Linked DNA regions of Homo sapiens. The protein of the gene in region 3 purifies or fractionates together with the protein of the main gene of each other region. This does not show direct contact. Each region holds a gene or a part of one and is shown on either strand. Other genes may lie near its edges. The genes, in order: NSA2, NTHL1 and CAMKK1.

Region 1 (3,651 bases), on a different chromosome or scaffold from region 3:
TTTTTTCATTTTCATGATTCAAGTAGAAAATAGTGCCAAGTAGGTATTATTATACATGGTAAATGAGATGAAAAAAATGTTTAGAATGTGAATTCACTAGACCTTTGCTGTACTGGATTTCACAGGTGAAAAGATTTCTCTAAGATTTCTGAACTTTTAGTGTCTTCTCACATACTTCTAGTGTAAACAAACACTATAAACTTAACATCTGTATTAATGCTACCTACCTTTTTTAGGATTAATGATTAACGAGATTTTGAAGATACTTCAGTTAAATTCTCAGACACATAATTGTGTATTAACCTTTTTGAAAGGCATTTTCAATGAACACTGGTGGTTTTTTCAGGAAATTGCTGAATACCCACTCACAAATGCAGATATTGATGAAGTAGGATATTTGTATATTTGCTTTTTTTCAATCATTCAGTTTTATGAACATGGGGTCAAAGCGTATTTCAAAATAAAGACCATTTATAAAACTGGACCACTTTAATGTTTACAATTTAATAAATCTCTTCATTGCAGACATGTATGGCTGTTTGGTAGTATTCAGAAACATCACAGTAATGGCAGTTTCTTCAATTGGTGTGTAGTCCTCAATAATTATATATGAAATTGCTGTCAAACCAGTAAGACTGCATTTATACATCCATCATTTTCAGGATTGTTGGTAACCTGGGCATATTTTCCTAAGGAAAACAAAACCAAAAAAGGGAAAAGGGAGGGTTGTTAGCTAATAAAAATTAATTTTAAAGAATATAACTTTTGCCTTTTTTTTCTTTTTGTCTTAATACAGGGTTTCACTCTTATTCCCCAGGCTGCAGTGTGGTGGCGTGATCTGGCTCACTGCAACCTCTGCCTCCTGGGCTCAAGCGATTCTCCTCACTCAGTCTTCCGGGTAGCTGGGACCACAGGCACACGCCACTGCCTGGCTAATTTTTTTGTTTTTGTATTTTGTAGAGATGTGGTTTTGCCATGTTGCCCAGGCTGGGCTCGAACTCCTGAGCTCAAATGATCCGCCTGCCTTGGCCTCCCAAAGTGCTGTGATTATAGGTGTGAGCCACTGCGCCCAGCCATGCCTAAAATATTTCTAATTACCACTTTCAATAAATAAGAAATGAACCATAAAGGATAAATGAGATTTTACAAAATTCAATCATTTAAGGACAAATTTGAGTTCTGAATACAATTTTCATACAAATAGTGTTTTTGCAAATAATGGCCAGCTCCATGTTATTAGTACATTGCATTAACAGGCTTTTGTGGATTGACCTGAGCATTGTCACTTTTTCACATAATTCTTCCTGGAAAATGTATCAAGTTTCAAATGAGTTTCAAGTCAAGGTAACAACATATTTTAAAACTGAGGTCAGCTGACATGAAGTATAAACCAATGACTGAAGAAGTTGTAGCGTGTATTCTTCCCTTTCAAAGAAATTGGATCTGGGTACTAAAGGTAGAAAACTAAGCAAATGAGGGCGTTTAAAATTACTGCATGACACATTTCTGTTTTAATTATTACTGATCTAGTGTGATTATATGTTGTATGCCTCCCTCGGCTCATGGTTAATTTATTCTATTTTTTTTTTACAATTTTTTTTAGTTATAACTTTGCATCTGCTTCCCTTGTAATAAAGAATTTTTATTAAAAAAGATCAAAATATTTTTATTTTACTTATTTTTGAGATGGAGGCTTGCTCTGTCTCCCAGGCCGGAGTGCAGTGGCATGATCTCAGCTCACTGCAAGCTCCAGGTTCATGTGATTCTCCTGCCTCAGCCTCCCGAGTAGCTGGAATTACAGGCACCCACAACCACACCTGGCTAATTGTTTTGTATTTTTAGTAGAGACGGCGTTTTGTCATGTTGGCCAGGCTGGTCTCCAACTCCAGTCTCAAGTGAACCGCCTGCCTCGGCCTCCCCAAGTGCTGGGATTATAGGTGTCAGCCACTGCGCCCAGATAGCGAGGGGGCTTTTTAAAGCCTGGAAGCTTCTACATGATTTCTGAGACCTGTTAATGGGAATTAACAGAACGAACTAAACTGTGTTAAATCACTTTCAATTATTATTATTACTTTTTGAGACAGAGTCTCGCTCTGTCATCCAGGCTGGAGTGCAATGGCACGATCTCAGCTCACTGCAAGCTCCACCTCCCAGGTTCAAGCGATTCTCCTGCCTCAGCCACCGGAGCAGCTGGGATTACAGGTGTGGGCCACAACACCTGGCTAATTTGTGTATTTTTAGTAGAGATGGGGTTTCACCATGTTGGCCAGGCTGGTCTTGAACTCCTGACTGCAGATGATCTGTCCGCCTCAGCCTCCCAAAGTGCTGGGATTACAGGCTGAGCCACCGCTCCTGGCAGTTTCAATGATCAGTTTACCTACGTGGGACAGATAGTTCTATTTCTTTAAATGTAATAGGTATTTTCTCTTAATGTTAGCATGTAAATATAAGAAGTATTTACATAATATAAAGTTGTGGCAAAAGAAATTTTTTCTTACGGAAGACATCTTTAGTCATTGGCTAATACTTCATGTAAGCTGACCTCACTTTTAAAATATGTTTGATATATGCCTCCCTTCCTCTGCTCATGGTTAATTTATTCTATTTTCTTATAATATTTCTTAGTTATAACTTTGCATCTGCTTCCCTTATAATAATTTTTATTAAAAAGGTTAAAAAAATTTTTTTTGAGATGGAGATTTGCTCTGTCTCCCAGTCTGGAGTGCAGTGGCACAATCTCAGCTCACTGCAAGCTCCGCCTCCTGAGTTCAAGTGATTCTCCTGCCTCAGCCTCCCAAGTGGCTGGGATTAGAGGTGCTCGCCACCACACCCGGCTGATTTTTTTGTATTTTTAGTAGAGGTGGGGTTTTGCCATGTTGGCCAGGCTGGTCTCAAACTCCTGACTTCAGGTGATCCACCCGCCTCAGCCTCCCAAAGTGCTGGGATTTACATGCGTGAGCTGCTGTGCCTGGCTAAAAAGGATAAAAATAAATCTAGCAGAATGTATTACACCTTATGTAACTAAAACCAGTAAGCTAAATTTTAAAACAATTGTATTTATAACAACTTTTTCTATAAAGTATTTTTTACTAAATATTTACATCTGATTTACAGTGTTTTAGCTCTACTGCATTAAAAAAATTTGCTGTATATTTTATTAATACATCAACTTGAATAGTATTTCTATTAGTACTGCAGAACACAGCAGCCCTGTATTCAAAAATTCACTTACCCCAAATAACTTTGCCTCCTTGTGTCACAAGGCCCAATTCGCTCACATTTACTTCAATGACAGTACCTTTGGTAATAACACCCAAAGTTGTATACAGTGGGGATGAGGGATTCTTCTTTACACCAAGTATTGGTAGGCAAAAGGTGGCTTTCAGTTCAGGATGTGTTACATGGGCTTTCTTGAAACGCAAGCCCTAGTAAGTCAAACACAACATAAGAATGTTTACGTCCAAAATGTTAACAGTGATGAGTAGTGGTCGTTTTCGCTTATCTTTTTCAACCATCTCCAAAAAACTATGGTTGAATAATGTCATCTTAAAGAAGCTAACAAAATATGTTTTACAGAGTAAAAAGCTGATGGTTACAGTATAAATATGTGGGGAAAACACCCACACAAATACTTAAGAATTTCTTTTTCTT
Region 2 (2,908 bases), on a different chromosome or scaffold from region 3:
GCCGCCACCCCGGTCCCTGTCACTGCACAAGCAGGTACGCAGGTACCAGGTGCTGCTGTCACTGATGCTCTCCAGCCAAACCAAAGACCAGGTGACGGCGGGCGCCATGCAGCGACTGCGGGCGCGGGGCCTGACGGTGGACAGCATCCTGCAGACAGATGATGCCACGCTGGGCAAGCTCATCTACCCCGTCGGTTTCTGGAGGGTGAGCCCTGCCTGTGGCAACGGGGGCCGGGTGGCAGTGGCCTGAGAGAGACCTCAGAAGGCTGAGGGGGGTGGCGACGGTGCAGGAAGTGAGGGTCAAGCATCTCAGGCTCGGGGGGTCCCCCTGAAGCCCCCCCCAGGCCGTGGGGCCCTGAGGCCTGACGCCCAGTCCCAGCAGCTCCTTGGCCTTCCTGTTCGCATCCTCCCTTCCTTCCTCTGCTTCCCCGCCTCGCCGCCTGCCCACCCTTCCTCACCGCCAAGGCTGCCTGCCCACCCGCCTTTCCCTTTGTTTACTGCTAGCCTCTCCCGGTGTGTCACCCCCTCCTGTCCAGAGCCCCTCACCCTCCAGGAGCCCTGGGGAGGCTGCTCCCCAACCCCGCCGAGCACTGGATGGTGGTGGGCGGATCTGTTGAAAGCAGCTTGGTGGGTGGGGCCGCTTCCCCTTGGCACCCGCGTGGGCCGCAGTTTCTCAGATGGGTTTTAAATAGCCCTCTCCACTCAGGCACAGGATGGGAACCACCCGGCAGGCCTGGCAGCTGGTGGGGAAGCCCCAGCTCCAGCCCTCCTTCCTGAAGGCGCAGGTGCAGCCAAGCCCCACTCCTGGGAGCGGCTGGCCTGCTTGGCCTGGCCTGGGTGCTGGCAGGGAATGACGGGCAGGGGAACCCCAGCCAGAGCCTACACGTGCATCATTGGCCCACACGGGTGGGAGGAGGGGGTCAGGCCTACCTTGGGCCTCCCTGCTGCCCTCCGCTTGTTCCCGCCTCCTGGGGGGCGGGGGCTGAGCTTGCACACGTCCTCAGCAGGTGCAGGTAGCTCTGGCCACCTGTGGGTCTCCTGGGGGCTGCATCCTCCCAGGTTGGGCTGTGCCCTTGCCTCCAAGGCTGAACCCACCCCTGTCTTTCAGAGCAAGGTGAAATACATCAAGCAGACCAGCGCCATCCTGCAGCAGCACTACGGTGGGGACATCCCAGCCTCTGTGGCCGAGCTGGTGGCGCTGCCGGGTGTTGGGCCCAAGATGGCACACCTGGCTATGGCTGTGGCCTGGGGCACTGTGTCAGGCATTGGTGAGTAGAGGAGGGCGGGGCTGGCTCCAGCCCACTGGCTGCTCTTGGGATTCCCCACATCCTTGTGACCTGTGACTCCACTTCCAGCATGCTGGTCCTCCACCCAGCCCATAGAGTCAGAAAGGTGCTCCCAGGGTGGAGCCAGGCCAGCCCCACTCAGAGACAGGTGCTGGGGCAGGAGGTCACATGGGCTGAGCACCTGCTCCGTGCAGGGCTCTGAGAGAGGCCCCGGAGCTGGACTCCATCTGCGTTGTATTCGGGAGAAATGTGGAGCGAGGAATTCCCCACTCGTGGAGTGGAAACCCTGATGGTTGTGCAGGGTGCTCTTGGGGCCTGGCTTGGGCCCAGGGCCTCTGGGAAGGCCCCCAAGGTCATCCTTCACCTGAGAGCTGCAGAGCAAGGTGGGGTGAGCCAGGCCAAGAGGAGGAAGTGTGTTCCCAGCAGAAGGAACAGCATCTGTAAAACCATGATGCGAGAGAGAGGGCCAGGAGCAGGAAGTTCTGGAATGAGATGAGGGCAGAGTGGGGAGGTAAGGACTGAGGAGGGAGGAGGAAGAGTATCCCCTCAGCAGGTGGGGTGGGGAGGGAGGTGCTGGGGGGAGAAAGGGGGAGGGTGGGGAGGGAGGCTCTGCGGGGACAGGAGGGGAATGGTAGGGAGGGAGGCGCTGGGGGAATGGGGGAGGAGGGTGGGGAGGGAGGCGCTGGGAGGATGGGGGGAGGGTGGAGAGGGAGGTGCTGCGGGGAGAAGAGGGGAGGGTTGAGAGGGAGAAGAGGGGAGGGTGGGGAGGGAGGCACTGGGGGGAGGGCCCTCCTTGAATCCTTTTCCCAGGTCCTGGTGTCTCTTCCTAGCACCGGAGGCTTCTTGGCAGTTGGGTGCAGACAGACCCCTGGGTTTGGGGTGGGGCTGCCTCCTCCTCGGCTTTGTCCAGAGGATTTGGGGCTCCTAAGGCCACACGCAGCCGGGCCCAGCCAGTCCAGAAACCAGGGCTTGGCCCTGCCCTCTGTGTGCCCCCATCCCAGGCCCCTTTGGGACTCCTGCAGGGGGCCTGTGCCGGAGGCGGGGGGCTTGCAGCACTTTCTGGTGGGCAAGAGGGCCACCAAGGGCCGGGGGCCTCTATTCTGAGCCGGGGCCACCTGGTGAGGCTGAACAGCCACAGCAGCCCCAAAGAGCCAGAGCCAGGCCAGGTGCGCCGGGGCAGGGCCTCCTCCCGACTGAGACTCCCAGCGTCACCACCTGCCAGCCTCTCAGTGGACACTTGAGCTTATCTGGGCGGCTGTCCTCAGCTGCCCGTGTCCCTGGGGTGCTGCATCGTGGTTGGGCAGGGCTGTGGGGGAAGGTCCCTGCCCGCAGCCAGGCAGGGAACGGGCTTTGGGAGCAGCGGGCACAAGAGACAGCCATGTGGAAATACCTCCCTCTCCAGGTGTCTGTGGGCCTGACCACCTGCAAGGAGACCCCAGGGCTGCCTCCTAGGGGTTCCCCGAAAGAGAAACGCTCTCAGTTAAAATGTCAGAGCTGGCTGGGTACAAGGGCTCAAGCCTGTAATCCCAGCACTTTGGAAGGCCGAGGTATGTGGATCACCTGAGGTCAGGAGTTCAAGATCAGCCTGGCCAACGTGGTGAAACCCGCTCTCTACTAAAAAT
Region 3 (3,651 bases):
TCCATCTATTCAGGGGTCCCTCCCAGGGAACAGCACCGCCACCTTCATATCTGCAGGCTGGGGTGGGGTCCTCAGAGGGCAAAAGCTCTGCTAAAACTCAGACACCAGGAGCGGGTGGTAGCCCCCTTGTTCCCCTGGGTGGACAACTCACTCCTCAGGAAACACCACGGGCTCATTCTTGATCTTCCTGTGGAGGGCCAGGATGAAATCGTCGATGAATGGGCACTGTGGGGTGGAGAGGCAGACAAAGGATGTGGGTCCAGGGCCTCGACCTGTGCCAGGGGATCAACCCCCCTCCCTTGGTGGGGGCAGGGGTAGGGGGCAGGTCTGGGCTCCCATTACATGAGAAGGACCTCAACTCACACTGTAAATGTTCAACAAATGTTGACTGAATGAATGAGTTGCTGAGGGAACAATGAGGCTGGGTGCATCCACCGCCGTTACTGCCACCCGCGGCCAGGCCAGGCCAGGCTGGGTGCACCCACCACCATTACCGCCACCTGTGGCCAGGCCTCCACTCCCAGGGCCTGGGGCTTGGGAACATGTTCACTGAAATTCCCCCCTGCCCCTTAGTGTGGTCACCAGAGCAGGCACACCTGCGGGCAGGGATCACCGATACGTCAGCGTTGGGTGTCCCCAGGGTCCAGCCTCAGCCAGGGTAGGGGTGAAGGACAATTTGTCGAATAAATGAGCAAGGGAGTGAACACATGGCTCAATAAGTGAATGGCGTCAAGGGACAGAGGGACGGGGAGCACTCTGGCTGGGGCGGTGGCAACACCATCGTCGGCACCTCCCCTTAGGTGTCTGCTGTCCTGCGACTCCTTCGCGAGAATCGCTCCGCAGGGGACCAGAGAAAGATAGAAAAAGCCTCTTCTCTCTCAGCCTTCTCTGAGCCAGGTGGGCTCTTTCAAAAGCCACTTAAGGACAAAAAGGAAGAGCCTGCATCCGTCGCCCGTGCCCGCCTCACTGGACCCGCCCCAGCTCTGCTGGCATCCCTGGCACTCACCTTCCCATAGACAAAGCAGTACAACGTGACGCCAGTGGCCCATACATCCAAGGCCTGGAAAGAAACATGCTCACATCAGTCCCCAACAGGCACAGCCACCTCTGCCCACCCAGCTCCAGCGGGCTGCAGGAGAGGCCTGCAGGGAACCTCTTTCCTCTGTCATGCACTCACTCGACAAACACTCCGCGGTACTTGCCCGATGCTGGGCCCCGTGCTGAGTGCTGAGGACACAGGGGCGGCCAGAACAAGGCCTCCACCCTCCAGGGGTTCTGGATTTCCTTGGGAAAGACTCTAACCAGGTACGTTTCCAACTCAACAGGTACAAAACCTCCTTCATCCAGAGGGTCACACGGGCCGCTCCCGTGCCACAGACGCACCCCAGGAATGATGGTATATATGGAACTTCTGCTCACTAAACCAGCTCGGGCTTCAAGGAGTCATCCCTTCTCCTCATAATCCACCTTCTTCCTGATATTGCAAACAGCCCCTGCCCACACAGAGGCCCTGTCCTCTCACGCCCTCATCCACCGCCACTGCAACAACTCCTCTGGGCTCCCAAACACCCCTGGGCCTCCCCGCGCCCTGGACTCCAGCGTGTGCTCTCTCTACCTTCTGCTCCGGAACGCCACCTCTTCTGGTATCCACTTTCTCGCTTATATGAGTGATTCTCGATCTCTACCTACATATTCCTGCCCCAGATGCATCATCTGAATCCAACCAGGGAACACCAGACAAATGCAAACTGACAACATTCTACAAAATAACAGGCTGGTTGTCTTCCAAAATGTCAAGATCAGGAAAGACAACGGCAGGCCAAGGCCCTCTTCCAGATGAAAGGATACCACAGACAAGAAGGTGAATGCAGCAAGTGGTCCTCGATTGGATTCCGGGACCAGAAAAAGAAGAAGTTATGAAGTACAGTATCAGGACAACTGATAACATTTAAATAAGGTCTGTGGATTATGTATGTCTTTTTTTTTTCAGACAGAGTCTCACTCTGTCGCCCAGGCTAGAGTGCAATAGCACGATCTTAGCTCACTGCAACCTCTGCCTCCTGGGTTCGAACGATTCTTCTGCCTCAGCCTCCCAAGTAGCTGGAATTACAGGTGCCTGCCACCATGCCCGGCTAATTTTTGTATTTTTTAGTAGAGACGGGGTTTCACCACGTTGGCCAGGCTGGTCTCAAACTCCTGACCTCAGGTGATCCACCTGCCTCGGCCTCCCAAGTAGCTGGAATTACAGGTGCCCGCCACCATGCCCGGCTAATTTTTGTATTTTTTAGTAGAGACGGGGTTTCACCACGTTGGCCAGGCTGGTCTCAAACTCCTGACCTCAGGTGATCCACCTACCTTGGCCTCCCAAAGGGCTGGAATTACAGGCATGAGCCACCATGCCTGACCGATATATAAGTCTTATCAATGATTAATTTCTGGCTGGGCGTGGTGGCTCACACCTGTAATCCCAGCACTTTGGGAGGCCGAGGCGGGCGGATCACGAGGTCAGGAGATCCAGACCATCCTGGCTAACACGGTGAAACCCCGTCTCTACTAAAAAATACAAAAAATTAGCCGGGCGTGGTGGTGGGCGCCTGTAGTCCCAGCTACTCGGGAGGTTGAGGCAGGAGAATGGCGTGAACCCAGGAGGTGGAGCTTGCAGTGAGCTGAGATCGCGCCACTGCACTCCAGCCTGGGCGACAGAGCGAGACTCCGGCTCAAAAAAAAAGAAAGATGATGAAAAAGCCAGTGGGACAAAATGTCAATAATTGGTGAATCTGGGTAAAAAGATATAGGGGATTTCTTTGTACTATTCTTCCAACTTTTCTGTAAATTTAGAATTATATCAAAATAAAACATTTCAAAAAATCTTTATCAACATCCCCAACGTCTTTCTTTCTTTCTTCGAGACAAGGTGTCGCTCAGTCACTCAGGCTAGACACCATCACAGCTCACTACAGCCCCCAACTCCTGGACTCAAGCGATCCTCCCACCTCGGCCTCCCAAGTAGCTGGGACTACAGGTGTGCACTACCACACCTGTCTAATGTTTTTATTTTTTTTTTTGTAGAAATGGGGTCTTGCTATGTTGCCCAGGCTCATCTCAAATTCCTAGCCTTAAGAGATCCACCTTGGCCTCCCAAAGCACTGGGATTACAGGCATGAGCCACTGTGCCCGGCCTCCTGACCTCTTTCCTGGATACTCACACGTGTCCAAATGCCTCTCACCCACAGCCTCCCTGGCAGTGGGGTGGCTGGCACTCCATAGGTGAAACAGCCATGTGCCCAGGGAACTGCGCCAGACCGTGTAACCTCTTGTTCAGACAACTTTGCCTACGCTCCTGTCACTTAGGAGAAAGCCCAAACTTCCAGGCCCTTTATACCCTCTGCCCCCCACCCTGAGCCCTTCTGTTCTCTGGTTTATTCTCTAGGCTCCAGGTCCTGCTCAGATCCTCCCCATTCTTCAAGGGCCAGTTCAAATCCTGCCATGTCCCAAGATCTGCGGGGACCCCCAACTTCCCCCGAAACCATCCAGAGGGCAGGAAACAGGGTTCTCTTTGTTTCTGCCTCTTCCACAGTCCAGTCCAGAACCCAGCACAGAGCAACCAACAGTAAATATCTGCAAGGGAGATTTGGGACCACTTTGCTGGAA

The links.
Region 1: the proteins of CAMKK1 (region 3) and NSA2 purify together in Homo sapiens (affinity purification with mass spectrometry; one large-scale study listed by BioGRID and IntAct). This does not show direct contact.
Region 2: the proteins of CAMKK1 (region 3) and NTHL1 purify together in Homo sapiens (affinity purification with mass spectrometry; one large-scale study listed by BioGRID and IntAct). This does not show direct contact.

Annotation. Positions count from the first base shown.
Region 1 is NC_000005.10:74,773,642-74,777,292, reverse strand, and holds part of NSA2 (ribosome biogenesis protein NSA2 homolog), read right to left. Parts: intron 3,426-3,651; coding exon 3,233-3,425; intron 690-3,232; coding exon 622-689; 3' UTR 1-621. UniProt on the Homo sapiens protein: Involved in the biogenesis of the 60S ribosomal subunit. May play a part in the quality control of pre-60S particles.
Region 2 is NC_000016.10:2,041,927-2,044,834, reverse strand, and holds part of NTHL1 (endonuclease III-like protein 1), read left to right. Parts: intron 1-34; coding exon 35-205; intron 206-1,108; coding exon 1,109-1,268; intron 1,269-2,908. UniProt on the Homo sapiens protein: Bifunctional DNA N-glycosylase with associated apurinic/apyrimidinic (AP) lyase function that catalyzes the first step in base excision repair (BER), the primary repair pathway for the repair of oxidative DNA damage.
Region 3 is NC_000017.11:3,872,403-3,876,053, forward strand, and holds part of CAMKK1 (calcium/calmodulin-dependent protein kinase kinase 1), read right to left. Parts: intron 1,061-3,651; coding exon 1,007-1,060; intron 226-1,006; coding exon 152-225; intron 1-151. UniProt on the Homo sapiens protein: Calcium/calmodulin-dependent protein kinase that belongs to a proposed calcium-triggered signaling cascade involved in a number of cellular processes. Phosphorylates CAMK1, CAMK1D, CAMK1G and CAMK4. Involved in regulating cell apoptosis.